Regions from separate parts of the Homo sapiens genome. Here regions 2, 3 and 4 are each linked to region 1. The links come from fine-mapping of genetic effects on gene expression. A gene starts in region 1. Each other region holds a variant in brackets. All regions are shown on one strand. Distances are from middle to middle.

The links. PIP is the estimated chance that this variant, and not a neighbour inherited with it, causes the effect. A credible set is the group of variants that fine-mapping cannot tell apart.
Region 2: its variant is the best candidate, but not a certain one, in a credible set for the expression of ADK in monocytes (Fairfax 2014, PIP 0.52).
Region 3: its variant is the best candidate, but not a certain one, in a credible set for the expression of ADK in transverse colon (GTEx, PIP 0.58).
Region 4: its variant is the best candidate, but not a certain one, in a credible set for the expression of ADK in whole blood (INTERVAL, PIP 0.81).

What each region holds. Positions count from the first base shown.
Region 1 is chr10:74,149,387-74,153,386 of GRCh38, forward strand. ADK (adenosine kinase) reads left to right here and starts at 1,835. Exons shown (of 11, transcript NM_006721.4): 1 at 1,835-1,957. The coding sequence starts at 1,893. AP3M1 (adaptor related protein complex 3 subunit mu 1) reads right to left here and starts at 1,442. Exons shown (of 9, transcript NM_012095.6): 1 at 1,369-1,442. RefSeq lists enhancers at 1,366-1,595, 2,006-2,185.
Region 2 is chr10:74,725,332-74,729,981 of GRCh38, forward strand. No RefSeq gene overlaps it. Among named protein-coding and RNA genes, the nearest start is that of KAT6B, 99 kb to the right of the region's middle. The variant CAAA/C (reference allele first, on the strand shown) is at 2,620.
Region 3 is chr10:74,127,323-74,131,972 of GRCh38, forward strand. It overlaps AP3M1 (adaptor related protein complex 3 subunit mu 1), which reads right to left. Exons shown (of 9, transcript NM_012095.6): 5 at 2,585-2,670; 6 at 1,786-1,919. Among named protein-coding and RNA genes, the nearest start is that of AP3M1, 21 kb to the right of the region's middle. The variant A/G (reference allele first, on the strand shown) is at 2,823.
Region 4 is chr10:74,299,274-74,303,923 of GRCh38, forward strand. All of the region lies in intron 3 of ADK (adenosine kinase), which reads left to right. Among named protein-coding and RNA genes, the nearest start is that of ADK, 150 kb to the left of the region's middle. The variant G/A (reference allele first, on the strand shown) is at 1,931.

The DNA.
Region 1 (4,000 bases):
TCAAGGGATTCTCCTGCCTCAGCCTACCAAGTAGCTGGGACTACAGGCGTGTGCCACCACACCTGGCTAATTTTTGTATTTTTAGTAGAGACAGGGTTTCACTATGTTGGCCAGGTTGGTCTCGAACTCCTGACTTTGTGATCCGCCCGCTTCAGCCTGCCAAAGTGCTGAGATTACAGGCGTGAGCCACCGCGCCTGGCCAAGATTCGTAAATTAAGATAATTCTTCATTAACCTCATTCACTTCACTTCTCCTATAGTGTCAATTGAAAGTGTCCCTCTGTCTTTCCCAAATTAATCCTTTCACTTGTAACTTGATCCCATTCCTTTCCTTCTCTTCTGGGAGACAAGACTTTTTCTTGAATCTTCAAATAGTTGCTTGCTTCCTGCCCCCAAATAGATATCTTGTATTCTTTAAAACAAACCCCAAACTTTCCCCCACCTTGCCACTCTCAATAATCTTGCTTCATGCCCCAAATGATGAAGGATTGGTCTACACTTGCAGTCTTTCCTCAGTTACTATTAAAGCATCTCTCTCAAACAGCTCAATGACTTTCTAATTATAAAATCCAACGACCTATTCTGATTTCAGCTTCCTCCTCTGACCATTGCAGCATTTTATGTCATTGATAACTTTCTCCTAAACAAAAATACTTCTTACCCTTTTATATGAAACTTCATCTGTTTTGGGTCTCACCTTGAAAGTCTTTCGGGCTTAATTCTCATAATTTTTTTTAAAGTCTTTCTACAATCTCCATGTAAACCACTGTTTCAAATTCGATAAAACTCAAACTCCATAAAATACCTCCTCCTGTCACTGGCACCATCTTCTTAATCACACATAAGGCTGTAAGTTTCAGGTTCAAACAAATCTACCAAATACAAACAGCCACATCGCCCGTCACTCTTCCACACTCACTGCCACCTGCTCAGCTTAGAACCCCGTTACCTCTCTCCTGAAGAACTGCAACACCCTTCTCACTGCATTCCTCACCCCAGGCTCTTCCAGGCACCACCCGCTAACAGGACGTCTGCTCAGGTCCGTTTGGGGTTTTGTCCTCCAAAGCAGAAACCTGGGACTGAGATTCCTGCCGTCTGTACTCCAGCTCACTATAGAGGGGGAACCCAGTAAGCTTGACCTCCGGGGCTCAGGCGCCTGAGAACACTGGGCTGCAGGTGGACCGCTCCCTTCTGGCCTTGCTGGCGAGAAAGCCCGGAAGGCCGGGAGTGGGGGGGAAGCGAGGCCCGGGCCAACAGCACCAAAGACGCTCCTAGAGCCCAGATCGGAGTCGGGGGCCCCAGCTATTCAGCCTACTCCCGGGTTTTGGAGCTGTCCCCAGTCCACAGATTTCCCGCCCCTCACACTCACCCCAACACCTGTGCCAGTCAGTGATTCGGCGCCGGATCCTCTCCTACCGAAGCTGGAGAAGCCGAGAAGGCCGCGAGGACCCGCAGCTGGAGTGCCCAGGAAATTGCCTGATTAACAGCTTCAAAGACACCGACTCTGTCTACCGTATTAGAAATTTTAAATATGCAGGAAGACCGTAAATGAGAGGAAAGACGTCTCTTGAGGCTTAGTATCTAAATCTTCTACATAATCCAGGGCCTAGAAAAATGGTGGGTTTCTCTCCATCTAGATTCAGGCGGTCATCTGCTGCCTAACGCAGTCTGGGGTCCCTCATGGTAGGGGAGGCGGGGTCAGGAATGGGCGGGGCATTCGCTGTTGGTGCCGACGGATAGAGCCAATGATTGTGGATGACAGCGGCACAGAATGGGCGGAGTCTGGAGGGGCGGGATTTGGAGAAGAGAAAGCGGTGATGCGAAGAGGGGGCGGGACCAGAGAGTGGATGGCAGAGGTGGGCTGTAGAGCCAAAGTGGGGTGGGAGCGCGAAGATGGCAGCTGCTGAGGAGGAGCCGAAGCCCAAAAAGCTGAAGGTGGAGGCGCCGCAAGCGCTGAGGTGAGCGCTGCCGGACTTGGGGAGGAGGGTGACGGCGCTGCAAGCAAGCCAGGGCCCACGTGGGGTTGCACGGCCCCGACGCTGGGTGGTGTCTCTCACTGCCAGCTTGGGGCCAACACGCAGGACCTCCCCCAGCTGCCCGCTTGGCCGCGACCCCTTGCCAGACGTTCTCTCCGTTTGGCTGAGTCCCCGCCTGTCTGGTGCAGCTCCGGCTCCAGCAGCCCTTCGCCAGTCGTGGCCCGCAGGGGGACCGAGCTGGCTGACCGCGCCACCTGCGAGCAAGCCCAGGCTGGGCTGGTGCGACCCCGGAGGGTCGGACCGGAGCAGCGTCTGTAGGCGGCCGCCTTCTCTTCCCGGGGGATGGCGGGAAAGAGGCTCGGCAACTGCTGTACACTGGGGCAAAGTCAGAATTCTTGGGGATTTTTCAGAGTGTTGCGGAAGGGCACGTTGACCTTCCTTTTCGTGCACATTCTGAAAGCCCGTACCTTTGAGGACCCTCTACCAGGGACCCAGACCCCTCCGATGCTTTGCAGGGGCAGCATTTGGATGAATGGATAGGAAAGGTTGATTTCTCTTTTTTATTTACACTTTTTGGCAGCAACGGGGACAGTGCTGCCCCTAACACCTGCCTCACATGTGATTGATGTTGCAACTTTTACTTATGAAGAGTCATTTGTTAAAATATCCCTTCCTAATAAGTATAAAGTGAAGCAGGCAGTCTTTGATGATTTGGAAATGTTCGCTGAAAGGCAGCGATTTTTTTTTCCATCTTAAAATAGACATATCAAACTGATTTAAAACTATTAGGACACTCCTGATTAAACAGGACATATCCCATTTCTTCCAGTATCACTCTTCTTCACCTCCAAAGGAAGGAATCACTCACAATTGAAAAGAAAAGGACACTTAGGGGCCTGGTGGTGTGTTCATGCTGCTTTGAATGGAGGGTGAACAAATCCTTGCCAGTTCCTTTAATGTATTCCTACTACCCTCAAAGGGTTAGTGTGCCTACCTTATACCAAGAACATAAACTTTAAAATAAAAACCCTCAGGATATTCTATTTTTATTTTAAATATTCCAACTATATGCAGAATAAAAAGCAACGGCTTTTGAATCAGACCTACCTGAGTTCAAGGCATGTGCTTTCCCTACTCTGCCCTTTATTAGAGTATTTCCTTATAAGGCACCTCCTTCGCCAAACTGGAAGACAGATGCAACTTTTCCCTACCATCCTACTGAACATATAACCCTTAGATTTCCTTAGATTTTTCCTTAATAAAAATTATTATATATAATGCTGATCCATTTTCACTGTGTTTTCCTATTTATTATCTTGTTGGACAGTTCTGTGATCAAAGGAAGGCAAGAATTATGCCTATTTTACAATTGAAGATATTGAAGCCCAAATAAAACAATTAGTACAGGAACAGAAATAGGAACTAGCTGAGCATGTTTTCTTATACCTGCAGTCCTGGTGCTTTGTGAGGCTGTGGTGAGAGCATTCCTTAGGCAACTAAAATTCACTTTATACAATATGAATTTAGTGCCACCTGTAGACATGAAGTTAAAAGATTAGACACTTGAGTACTGGGACAAATCTCTAATTTTGTGGGGAGACATTTTAGGATCGGCTATTATTACTTTTATTATATTAATTTGCTTTCAGACTCAAAGTGTGATAATGCATTGAGTATTTACACTGAATTTATGATGACTTGCTTGACAGGGGATTGCTACTGGTTTTGGTTAAGGAGAATGGATTATAAAGACTTTGCATAATTTAATGTGCAGCATCAGTGGGAACAAATAATGAGATATATTTGTAGATGTCAGGAAAAATATTTAGATTTAGGGATTTGTGAGAATTTGGTCAGCTCTGGGATAATAATTCTCCACCAGGGGAAATTTTGCCCTCCAGGGGACATTTGGCGTGGTCTAGAAAGATATTTTTGGTAGGGAGAGCTATTGGCACCTAGTGGATGGAATTCAGGGGTGCTGCTAAACATGCTACATAGGACAACCCCCACAACAAAGAATTATCT
Region 2 (4,650 bases), 580 kb after region 1:
ATGTAAACCATAGATTTGGAGGGATAATGATGTGTCATTGTAGGTTCACTGACTGTAACAAATATACCACTTTTGTGCAGGACGTTGGTAGTAGAGGAGACGTAGTAGAGGAGGCTGTGCCCGTTGGGAGTCCAGAGGTATATGGGAACTCCTGAAATTTTCTGCTCAATTTTGCTGTGAAAATTGTAAAACTGCTCTAAAAAATCAAGTCTATTTTAAAAGAAGGCTGTGGGGTGTCATATTTAAATCTCTGACAGAAAAAAATTAACCAAGAATCCAACAAAAATATCCTTCAAAAATGAAGAAATTGAGATATTCCTAGATAAACAAAAGCTGAGGGAGTTTATTGAAGAAACTTCTCTAAAAGATATGCTAAGTGGCATCCTCTGGGCTGAAATGAAGGGACACTAGACAATAATTCAAATCCACACAGAGAAATAAAGAACACTCGTCAGGCGGGGCGCGATGGCTCATGCCTGTAATCCTAGCACTTTGGGAGGCCGAGGCGGCCTGATCACCTGAGGCCACAAGTTTGAGATGAGCCTGGCCAATGTGGTGAAACCCCATCTCTACTAAAAATACAAAAATCAGCCGGGCGTGGTGGTGCATGCCTGTAATCCCAGCTACTCAGGAGGCTGAGGCAGGAGAATTGCTTGAATCCGGGGAACAGAGGTTGCAGCGAGCTGAGATCACGCCACTGCACTCCAGCCTGGGCGAAAGAGCAAAACTCTGTCTCAAAAAAAGAATAGAAAAGAAAAGAACACTAGTCAGGGTAACCACATAAGTAAATATAGAAGACAATGTTTACATATTATTATTGTAATTCTTCTTTCTTATCTGGTTTAAAAGGCAACTGCATAAAGCAATAATTATAAATATTTGCATATAACCTATAAAGATATAATTTGTGACAATAAAAGCATAAAGAGGGAGGTGAAGCAATATAGGAGCAAATATTTTATATACTATTGGAACTAAGTTGGTATTAATCTGAATCACAGAGAAAAAGCAGATGAGTGATTACCAGGAACTGGGAGAATGGGAGAAATGAGGAGTGACTATTAATGGTTATGGAGTTTCTTCTTGGTGGGTTGATGGTAGTGAAATATTCTGGAATTAGTGGTGGTGGTTTTACAACCTGAATATATTAAAAATAACTAAATTGTACACTTTAAAAGTTGAGTTTTATGGTATATTAATTATATCTCAATAACAATTACTTAGAAACAAACAAAAAGATGGCAGGAGTTGCTCTGTATATCTTAAAGAAATTGAATTTGTAAAGTTGAAAGCATTCCTACAAAAATACCTTCAGGCCCATATGGCTTTACTCATGAAGTCTACCAAACATTTAAGGAAGAAAGAATCCAATTCTACGTATACTCTTCCAAAATAAATTAAAGAAAACATAATTCTTTCCAACTCATTATTTGAGGCTAGAACCAAAACCAGATTAACACATTAGAAGAAAATACTCTGGAATCCCTGTCTCAAAAAAAAAAAAAAAAAAAAAAAAAAAAGTTAACATATCATGATCAAGTGGAGTTTATCCCAGGAATACAGGGCTAGTTTAATCTTCAAAATCGGGCCAGATGTGGCAGCTCTCACTTGTAATCCCAACGCTGGGAGCATATCTTGAGGCTGAGAGTTTAAGACCAGTCTGAGCAATGTAGCAAGACTCCATTTCTAAGTAAATAAAATATTCAAAATCAATAATTGAGCAAGTTGCAGTCGTTTATGCCTGTAGTCCAAGCTACTCAGGAGGCTAAGGTGGGAGGATCATTTGAGCCCAGGAGTTCAAGGCCAGCCTGGGCAACAACAACAAAAGATACCATCTCTAAAAGAAAAATCATTCATTATAATTCACCATATTAACAAAGTAAAAAAGAAAACCATATGATTATCTTGATAGACACAGAAAAGCGTTTGACAAAATCCAATATTCATTCCTAATAAAAACTAAATAAATCTGGAATAGAAAGGGATATCCTCAACATAATTATGGACATCTACAAAAACCCCACAGCTACTATCACACTTAGTGGTGAAAGACTGAATAGTTTTCCCTAAGACTAGGAACAAGACACCTTCTCTCCCCTTTTCTATTCAACGTTGTGCTGGAAGTCCTGGCCATTCCATCAGGCAGAAAAAAAAAGAAAAAAAACCAGCTAAATTGAAGAAGTAAAATTGTCTCAATTTTCACACAACGTGACTGTCTATGTAGAAATCTAAAGGAACCCAGAAAAAAGCAACTAGAACTAATAGGCAAGTTTAGCAAGGTTGAAGGATACAAGATAATACACAAAAATTAATTATATTTCTATATGCTAACAGTGAAAATTCATACATTTATTAATTTATCAAATTAGTAAAATGCCATTTGTAATAGCATCAAAAATATAAAATACGTAAAATACAAAATACAAAATACGTAGAAGTCCTCTAACTGGAAACCATAAAATATTGCTGAAAGAAATTAAATAATATCTAAATAAATAAATAGTCTGGGCACAGTGGCTCACGCCTGTAATCCCAACACCTTAGGAGGCTGAGGTGGGCAGATCTCTTGAGCCCAGGAGTTCAAGACCAGCCTGGGCAACATGGCAAACCCCGTCTCTA[CAAA/C]AAAAAAAAAAAATATATATATATATATATATATATATTTAGCCAGGTATGGTGACACACGCCTGTAGCCCCAGCTACTTGGGAGGCTGAGATGGGAGGATCACCTGAGCCCATCTTAGCCTCCCAAGTAGCTGGGACTACAGGCATGTGGGAGGTCGAGACTGCAGTGAGCCATGATCAAGCCACTGCACTCCAGCTTGGGTGACAGAGTGAAACCCTGTATAAAAAAAAAACTAGATATGCCTTGTTCATGGGTCAGAAGACTCAACAATGTTAAGATATCAATTGTCCCCAAATTGATCTATAGATGCTGATGTGGTTTGGATATTTATTCCCTCTGAATCTCATGTTGAAATGTGATCTCCAGTGTTGGAGGTGGGGCCTAGTGAAAGGTGTTTGGGTCACAGGGGTGGATCCCTCCTGAGTGGCTTGGTGCCCTTCTGCGGTAATGAGTGAGTTTTTGCTGTATTAGGTCACACAAGAGCTGATTGTTTAAAAGAGCTTGGCATCTCTCTCTTGCTCTCTCTGTCACTATGTGACACACCTACTCCCTCTTTTCTTTTCTTCCTGCCATGAGTAAAATCTTTCTGAGGCTGGCCAGGCATGGTGGCTCACACCTTTAATCCCAGCACTTTGGGAGGCCACAGTGGGCAGATCACTTGAGGTCAGGAGTTCGACACCAGCCTGGCCAACATGGTGAAACCCTGTCTCTACTAAAAATACGAAAATTAGCTAGGCATTGTGGCATGCATGGGTAGTCTCAGCTACTTGAGTGGCTAAGGCAGGAGAATCTCTTGAACCCAGGAGGCAGAGGTTGCAGTGAGCCAAGATTGTGCCACTGCACTCCAGCCTGGGTGACAGAGCGAGACTCTGTTTCAAAAAAAAAAAAAAAAAAAAAACTTTCCAGAGGCTTCACCATAAGCTGAGCAGATGACGGTGCCATGTTTGTACAGCCTACAGAACCGTGAGCCAAATAAACTTCTTTTCTTTATAAGTTACCCAGTCTTTGATAATTATAAATTACCCAGTCTTTTTTTTTTTTTTTTGAGATGGAGTCTCACTCTGTCGCTCAGGCTGGAGTGCAGTGGCACGATCTCCGCACCACTGCACTCAGCAGGTTCAAGCAATTCTCCTGCCTCTCAGCCTCTCGAGTAGTTGGGACTACAGGCGTGAGCCACCACACCTACCTAATTTTTGTATTTTTAGTAGAGACAGAGTTTCGCCATATTGGCCAGGGTGGCCTCAAACTCCTGACCTCAAGTGATCCACCCACCTCAGCCTCCCAGAGTGCTGGGATTACAGGCATGAGCCACCGCACCTGGCCAAATTACCCAGTCTTTATAAATTTATAATAAAGGCCTTTATTCAAGGCTCCCTTTATTATAATTTTATTATAAATATAAATATTTATTATTTATAAATAATAAATATTATAAATATTATTAGGTGCTAATATTCAAGACAATAGGGAAAAGACCCAGAAGGCATTTCTTCCCTAGCAATGCAAAACAGACTAACACAGAACATTGATACCAGGAGTGTGATGTTGCTATAAAGATACCTGAGGATGTGGAAGTGGCTTTGGAACTGTGTAATGAGCAGAGGTTGGAAGAGTTTGGAGGGCTCAGAAGAAGACAGGAAGACAAGGGGAAGTTTGGAACTTATCAGAGATTGGTTAAATGATTGTGTCCAAAATGCTGATAGAAATGTGGACTGTGAAGGCCAGGCTGAGGAGGTATCAGATAGAAATGAAGAACTTGGCTGGGAGCAGTGGCTTACGCCTATAATCCCAGCACTTTGGGAGGCCAAGGTGGGCAGATCACCTGAGGTCAGGAGTTCAAGACCAGCCTGGCCAACATGGTGAAACCCCGTCTCTACTAAAAATACAAAAATTAGCCAGGCATGGTGATGGGTGCCTGTAATCCCAGCTACTTGGGAGGCTGAGGCAGGAGAATTGCTTGAACCTGGGAGGCAGAGGTTGCAGTGAGCTGAGATCGCACCACTGCACTCCAGCCTGGGTGACAGGGT
Region 3 (4,650 bases), 22 kb before region 1:
AGAAATCTGAAGTTTAATAACAGTATAAACAATTGGGGTGGCTGGGTGCAGTGGCTCACACCTGTAATCCCAGCACTTTGGGAGGCCAAGGCAGGCAGATCACTGGAGGTCAGGAGTTTGAGACCAGCCTGGCCAACATGGTGAAATCCCCTCTCTAATAAAAAAAAAAAATAACAAAAAACAAAAATTAGCTGGGCGCGGTGGCAGGTGCCTGTAATCCCAGCTACTTGGGAGGCTGAGGCAGGAGAATCGCTTGAACCCAGGAGGTAGAGGTTGCAGTGAGCCAAGATCACACCATTGCACTCCAGCCTGGGTGACAATAGTGAAACTCCGTCTCAAAACAAACAAACAAAACAAAATAACATAAAACAAACAAACAAAAACAATTGGGGCAAATGGCCCTAGTTTAAAATGAATTATGATCCCACTGAAAAATAATGTAAAATATGTTTTATATAAATGAAAACAGTTCCTATGTGATAAGAGCCAAGAAACAGGCCAGGCACGGTGGCTCACGCCTGTAATCCCAGCACTTTGGGAGGCTGAGGTGGGCAGATCACCTGAGGTCTGGAGTTCGAGACCAGTCTGACCAACATGGAATAACCCCGCCTCTACTAAAAACACAAAATTAGCCGGGTGTGGTGGTGCATGCCTGTAATCCCAGCTACTTGGGAGGCCGAGGCAGGAGAATCACTTGAACCCTGGAGGTGGAGGTTGCAGTAAGCCGAGATTTCACCATTGCACTCCAGCCTGAGCAACAAGAGCCAAACTCCGGCTTAAAAAAAAAAAAAAAAAAAAAAAAGGAAAAGAAAAGAGCCGAGAAATAATTTCTCTGTTTTTGAGTTCTGTCATGATGTTACTCAAATAACTTTTGGTATTTTCAAGAAACAAACTACCTATAACTCCGATCCCCAATGCTAAATTTTTTTTTTTTTTGAGATGGAGTTTTACCCTGTTGGCCAGGCTGTAGTGCAGTGGTGTGATCTGTCACTGCAACCTCTGCCTTCCAGGTTCAAGTGATTCTCATGCCTCAGCCTCCTAAGTAGTTGAGATTATATAGGCACACGCTACCACGCCTGGCTAATTTTGTGTTTTTAGTAGAGACAGGGTTTCACCATGTTGACCAGACTGGTCTAGAACTCTTGACCCCAAGTGATCTGCCCACATTGGCCTCCCAAAGTGTTGGGATTACAGGAGTGAACCACTGCACCCGGCCCCTCAATGCTAAACAGTTCCTTAAAAACTCAACGCAGAGAAGACGTACTTGAAGCAGGTAAATTGGGGAATGTCCTCACGAACTACAGGTAGGTCTGTCTCCTTGTTGGCCACAAACTCTACAGACTATGGTAAGATTATGGCAATGGTTCATGGTTTTGCCCAGGTTATGCATGGTCCGTTTTGCTCTGCTTGCAAAGTACTCAGCTTTCAGAAGCAGAGCAAAATGGACCATGCATAACCTGAGCAAAGAACCAGTGCCATAATTTGACCATGCATAACCTTGCAAAGGACCGGTACCACAATTTTTGCCCAGGTTATGTATGGTTTGCTTGTTCTTGGCTATAGATTTTACTCTAGTCTCACTTAGTACCACTCTACACTCATACATTCAAAGTATACGGATTATTTTAGGTGCGTATTTTCACCCGTTCTCACTGGGTCTCCTGGTGAGCTATGGTTAAAGTGAGCAGTGATGACCTCAAGTACTCAACTTTCAGAAAGAAACAGGGAAAGGTGAGTTGTACTTGATATGTATGATGGCAGATTCTGGCTGATGCATCAACATACTTTTGTGAGCTGACACGGTATGATATGAGTCGGAAATTTCCATCTGGAGGAATAAATGACAAAACTCTTTCAGATTCCCAACGCTTGAACCGGATGCAGGGGTGAAAGCTGACATCATCCAGAAGCCTAGGGTTCTGCCAGAAAAACAGAAGACAGTCGTTCATAGACTATAATGAATATGGGAACTGTACTCAGATACCTTGACAAATATGTTCCCTGAAGATAAAGCAGTCATGGAAGAGTTTATGACCACATCTACACAACCTTATAGTTTCATAATGCTTTAAAGTTTGTAAATATTTTATGTACATTATTTTATTTGAATTTCAATAACTATAAAGGAGAAAAGGCAAGTAGTATTATTTCCCTTTAACAGATTAAAAAACTGAGGTTCAGAGGACTTAAGGTCAGAGCAAACTGGTGACAACACCAGAAGTCAGTTCTCTTAATTGTTCCTAGCAGTATATCATGCTGACTCTAAAATGATACAAAAGACCAGTGTCCTTTCATATCAGCAAAGCAAATAATTATTCAGTAAAAATGATACTGGATATTTGCAGAAGCCAGCCAGCCAATTTTAAGCCCCTTCTAGCACACTCAGGCAAAGACCTCCCTTAGTCTTTCCACAAAGACCACGCTCATCATGTAAGCGACTGTCTTAGGAAACTCTGCTAGGAATATTTCTGAGATAATCCTTTGCAATCTAAGATGCAAACTTATCTCAATATTTATCATTTCATTTAGTACTTCACATGTATTAGGCATTCAAGGGGCTATAAAACAGGAGAATAAAACTTACCATGAAAGAAAGGGAGAGATCAGGCATTCCAGATAGTTTAATGCAAGCATCAATGACCCCCTGAATTTCTGCAAAGACTGTAGATCCTGAAGAAAGAAAAAAAAAAGGAAGATAACATCAATGGAATATGAGTCTTCACTAGACCTATCACTGTATCTTTTTATTTTTATTTATTGTTTTTAGAGACAGAGTCTTGCTCTGTTGCCAAGGTTGGAGTGCAGTTGTATGATCATAGCTC[A/G]CTGCAGCCTCACTCCTGGGCTCAAGTAATCCTCCTGCCCTAGCCTCCCAAATAGCTGGGAATATAGGTGCGTGCCATGACACCTAGCCCAACAATCACTACATCTAGAACAATAGAGATACCCTCTGGGTGTCAGATTAACTGAAGCTTTACATCTCTATTAACAGGTCAGGGGACAAGGTCCATACTTAACTCTGGCTGGAATATAATAATAATTCTTTTATTTTTAAGAGATAAAGTCTGACTAGCTAGTCCCAGCTGGTCCCCAGAGTAACTGAGACTACAGGTATGCCACTGTAGAATATAATTTTTTTTTTTTTGAGACAGGGTCTTGCTCTGTCACCCAGGCTGGAGCGTAGTGGTGCTATGATAGCCAGCCTCAACCTCCTGGGCTCAAGCAATCCTCCCACCTCAGCCTCCCAAGCAGCTGGTACTACAGGCATGCACCTCCACGCCTGGCTAATTTTTGTATTTTTTTTGTAGAGACAGGGTCTTGTTATGTTGCCCAGGCTGGTCTCAAACTTCTGGGCTCAAGCAATCCGCCTACCTTAGCTTCCCAAAGTGCTGGGATTACAGGTGTGAGCTACCATACCCAGCCAGAATATGCTAATTCTAAGGAAAATTAAACTGTTTCCTTTATGGAGCCAACCCTGTAAGATGACTGGATATGAGTTTAAAACATTTGGCAGGACGCAGTGGCTCATGCCTGTAATCCTAGCACTTAGGGAGGCTGACGTGGGTAGATTATCTGAGCTCAGGAGTTTGGGACCAGCCTGGGCAACATGGCAAAACCCCGTTTCTACTAAAAATACAAAAAATTAGCCAGGCGTGGTGGTGTGTGCGTGTAGTCCCAGCTACTTGGGAGGCTGAGGCAGGAGAATCGCTTGAACGTAGAAGGCGGAGGTTGCAGTGAGCTGAAACCACAACACTGCACTACAGCCTGGGCGACAATGTGAGACTCTGTCTCAAAAACAAAATAAAACAAACCAACCAAAACCATTTTCAATAGAATTTTATTTTTTTTTAATTTTTTTTTTGAGACGGAGTCTTGCTCTGTCACCCAGGCTGGATGGAGTGCAGTGGCGCTATCTGGGCTCACTGCAAGCTCTGTCTCCCGGGTTCACGCCATTCTCCTGCCTCAGTCTCTCGAGTAGCTGGGACTACAGGCGCCTGCCACCACACCCAGCTAATTTTTTGTATTTTTAGTAGAGATGGGGTTTCACTGTGTTAGCCAGGATGGTCTGGATCTCCTAACCTCGTGATCCACCCGCCTCAGCCTCCTAAAGTGCTGGGATTACAGGTGTGAGCCACCGCGCCCGGCTTCAATAGAATTTTAAAATGTGGCAAGTGTATTATGAAATGGACTAAGTTAACTTTTAAGAAATAGGATCCATAATAGAAAGATATCTCTTTTTTTTTAAGAGACAGGGTCTCCCTCTGCCATCCAGGCTGGAGTACAGTGGTGTGAACATAGTTCACCACAGCATTGAACTCCTGGGCTCAAGCAATCCTCCTGCCTCAGCCTTCTGAATAGGTAGGATTAAGGAAGCCATGCCTAGCTAATCTTTTAAATTTTTGATAGATATGGGGTCTTGCTATGTTGCCTAGGCTGGTCTTGAACTCCTGGGCTCAAGTGATCTTCCTGCCTAAGCCTCCCAAAGTGCTGGGATTACAGGTGTGAGCCACCGTGCCTGGCAAAAATCTATTATTCTATAAGATGGAATGTTATAATGAAAAGGGGACTCATGGAAGAGAAGATATTGACTATAATTCACAATAAGCCATCATTACATATTAACAAGTTGTGTGACCTGGAACAGTTCACTTA
Region 4 (4,650 bases), 150 kb after region 1:
ACTTGAGGTCAGGAGTTCGAGACCAGCCTGGCCAACATGGTGAAACCCCATCTCTACTTAAAAAAAAAAAAAAAAATTAGCAGCGTGTGGTGGCATATGCCTGTAATTCCAGCTACTTTAGGAGGCTGAGGCAGGAGAACTGCTCGAACCTGGGAGGTGGAGGATACAGTGAGCTGAGATGATGCCATTGCACTCCAGCCTGGGTGACACAGCAAGACTCTGTCTCAAAAAAAAAAAAAGAAATATATATATATATATAAAATATATTAAAATACATATTTATATCATAAACTTTGTAGATTTCTCCACTTAACCTTTTTGCTCCATATATATTTTAAATATACATTATACATATATATGGATCAGAAAAAAGGGTTAATTGGAGAAATCTACAAAGTTTGTGAAACTATAAGGTTGTAAAGCCTATGGCTATTCATTGTATTATTTATTAGCAGCTATTTTGTAGACAACATTTGAATCTATGATTTATTATTTGAATATCATTTATTATTGAACCAGTATTATCAACAGTGAACTTCATTTGCTGTATGAAGAGATAGTTCTGTAAGTTTTTATCAGAAATTTAAGCTGTATATTTGACTTGCCTGACCACCCATCAGTTTGATTACTGCAGTTGTTTGAGCTTATGGTCAAGATTCAAATTTTTCTAAACAAGGAGAAGCTCCTTCAACTACTGTTATTGCATATGAAATGGCTTTGAAAATTAGCTTTTACTGAAGACTTTATATTGTTTCTTTTCTTTCTTCTTCTTCGTCTTCTTTTTTTTTTTTTTAGAAACAGGATCTTGCTATGTTCTCCAGGTTGGTCTTGAACTCCTGGACTCATGTGATCCTCCTGCCTCAAGCTCCCAAAGTGTTGGGATTATAGGTGTGAGCCATCATGTCCCTGGCTAATACATTATTTCTTAATGATACTGATATTGTTGTTGTTTGTTTCTTTCTTTCTCTCTCTCTCTCTCTCCTTGTTTCCTTCCTTCCTTCCTTCCTTCCTTCCTTCCTTCCTTCCTTCCTTCCTTCTTTCCTTCCTTCCTTCCTTCCTTCCTTCCTTCCTTCCTTCCTTCCTTCCTTTCTTTCTTTCTTCTTTGTCTCTTTTCTCTTTTCTCAACAGGGTTTCACTCTGTCACGCAGGCTGGAGTGCGGTGGTGCTGTCTTGGCTCACTGCAACTTCCACCTCCCTGGTTCAAGCAATTCTCCTACCTCAGCCTCCCAAGTAGCTGGGACTACAGCCTCATGCCACCATGCCCAGCTAAGCTTTTTGTATTTTTAGTAGAGACAGGATTTCACCATGTTGACCAGCCTGGTCTCAAACTCCTAATGTCAAGCTATCCACTCACTTTGGCTTCCCATAGTGCTGGGATTACAGGTGTGAGCCACTGTGGCAGCCTTTATATGGTTTCTTAATTTTGAGGCATACCAGTGCTTATATGTAAAACTTATACTATGGTAAAGTTATTTGACAGCAGCTAATGTAGTTTGAATCACAAGTAATGTCAAGCTGCTTTATATACAATGTCCCATTCTGTCAAAAGTTAAAACAAGAAGTGATACTTCTATTTCCACACACATTTGTAGCAGATGTTTGTGGGCTCAAACTATAGTTTTAGCAATATTGATGCCAGAGCAGAGATAACTTCTTTATTTCAAAATCCATCTAACACTGCAATCACGGAGCTTCTACCTTATGTTACATTAGAAGTGATTAATCTGCAATCTACATGCTAAAGGGGAAATATCAAGAAAAAGCTCTGATAGAATTCTATAAATGCTTTCTAAGTGATAAATATGCTTAATTTAAATCATATGCTATTGGATTTATATCAGTATTTGGGAGTATCTATTTGTATATAGAGACATTCAAAGTTGAAATATGTGAAATTATTATAGATCAATGTTAACAGATGAATATTTGC[G/A]ATCAATTTTGATTGATAACAGTAACTTTGGCCAGGCACAGTGGCTCACACCTGTAATCTCAGCACTTTGGGAGGCCGAGGCAGGTGGATCATGAGGTCAGGAGTTCAAGACCAGTCTGGCCAATATGGTTAATCCCCATCTCTACTAAAAATACAAAAAATTAGCTGGGCGTGGTGGCGTGCGCCTGTAGTCTCAGCTTCTCGGGAGGCTAAGACAGGAGAAACGCTTGAACCCGGGAGGCGGAGGTTGCGGTGAGCCCAGATTGCACCACTGCACTCCAGCCTGGGTGACAGAATGAGACTCTGTCTCAAAAAAAAAAAAAAAAAAAAAGTAACTTTAAACACCAATTAAATGAAATGTTATTTCCCCTAAAAGAATTACATTCTTCTCATTACTAAACCTGATAAACAAAAAATTTTATTGTTATTAATATTCCTAAATTTGTCAGTAAAAGTTTTTTGTTTTATAAGTACCTAGATAATGTCCTTGGTTTTTTTCTCATTACCCATAGAGCCCAAACTATTTACTACCTGGCCTTTTACAAAGAAAGCTTTCTGACCCTCATCTTCTTCTAAAAGAATAATAGATGTCTAATTAGAAACCAGTTATGCATTGGGTTGAGTATCCTTTATTAGCATTTTAAAGTTCTTGCATTTCGAAAATACTAAAAATACTCAAATTTAGAAAAGTTAGTTGTCTTCATAATGTAATTTAAATGTTTGAAGTGTTACAAAAGAGATTCACCTGCAATTAAATATCAGCAGAGTGTGTCCTGTACCCTTATCCTGCAACACTTTTCTCCTATAGTAACTGAATGACTTTGGAATTCAGGGCTTTGTATTTTTACCTTTTTTTAAAGCTTATTTTTGCTTTCTTTTCTTTTCTGTTTTTTTTTTGTTTGTTTGTTTTTTTTTTTTTTTTTTTTTTTTTTTTTTTTTTTTTGAGATGGAGTCTTGCTCTGTCGACCAGGCTGGGGTGCAGTGGCGTGATCTTGGCTCGCTGCAACCCCTACCTCCCGGGTTCAAGCGATTCTTCCACCTCAGCCTCCTGAGTAGTTACAGGTGGGACCACCATGCCTGGCTAATTTTTTGTATTTTAGTAGAGATGGGGTTTCACCATGTTCCCTGGGCTAGTTTCAAACTCCTGAGCTCAGGCAATCAGCCCACCTCAGCCTCCCAAAGTGCTAGGATTATAGGCATGAGCCACTGCCCCCAGCCTGTTTTTGCTTTCAAATGGACTGTTGATGGTTTTCTCAGAGTGCTTTACTTTTGAAGTCCAGTTTGTACTGGAAAGAATTTATATTCCAGGCTGGGCACAGTGGCTCATGCCTATAATCTCAGCACTTTGGGAGGCCAAGGCAGATGGCTCACTTGAGTCCAGGAGTTCAAAACCAGCCGGAGCAACTTGGCAAAACCTCGTCTCTTAACAAAAATATTTTAAAATGAGCTGGTTATAGTGCTGCATGCCTATGGTCCCAGCTACTTGTGGCACTGAGGTAGGAGGTTGGCTTGAGCCTGGGAGGCGGAAGTTGCAGTGAACCCAAATCGTGCCACTGCACTCCAGCCTCCATTACAGAGGGAGAGCCTGTCTCAAAAAAAGGAAACGAATTTATATTCCACATTTTACTGAGTCTAGTGTGAGTTTTTGTTTAAAAAAAAACAACCCAGGAATAATTTCTTCAAATTCATAAGCATGGCAGGCAGTTTTATTTTAAATTCTGTGGGAAATATGAATTTAAGGATCTCATGTACCATGCCTTGATAATCATTTCTCTGTAATGTATATTTTGGCAAATGATATTGTTATGAAACATACTTTTGCATTAATATTAACTTTATGCATAATAAAGATGCATCTTCAGTTTTTTGTTTGTCCTATGAGAGTTTACAGCTGGGGACATCTTTTACAAAAGTATATTTATAACCTGTTCAGAAGATATGAAACACAATAATGAGATAATCACCTATGTATTTTTCAGTTAGCAGTTACAAAAGGATTATTGACACTTATAGTTGTTAATATCTCAGTAAAAACATACTCTTGTGCTTATTTTAAAATTGAACGCTAGTCTATATTTTTAAAGTTTCCTTTTATGGAATATTTTGTCTTTTGGCACTTTGCATCTGGATTATAGTTCCCCCATTTAAGAAAGAAACCTGTTTCTATTCAATAGGATTAAAAACACACTTTCAGTTTTAGAGCAGATTTATCATCTACCCTTCAGGCTATTCTTTAATATGGAGCTCTTAAAAATGAGTATATTAAGATATTCCCCAGATGTTTTAAACTTCAGCAAACTTGTGGTTTTCTTTATTTGTAGTATTTGGAAGATGAAAGAAAGTATCTCCAGTATCTAAACACTTTTCATATTGGTTTTAATGTTGTTTTTTTTTTTTTTTTTTTTTTTTTTGCTAGAAAGGCATGCACAAGATAAAGCTTCTACACTGATAAATTTTCAAAGTCCTTGCTTTTAAAATATCAAGCTGGGTGCAGTGGCTAACGCCTGTAATCCCAGCACTTTGGGAGGCTGAGGCGGGTGGATCACCTGAAGTCAGGAGTTCGAGACCAGCCTGGCCAACATAGTGAAAACCCGTCTCTACTAAAAATATAAAAAATTAGCTGGGTGTGGTGGCTGGTGCCTGTAATCTCAGCTATTAGGGAGGCTGAGGCAGGAGAATCGCTTGAACCCGGGAGGTGGAGGTTGCAGTGAGCTGAGATC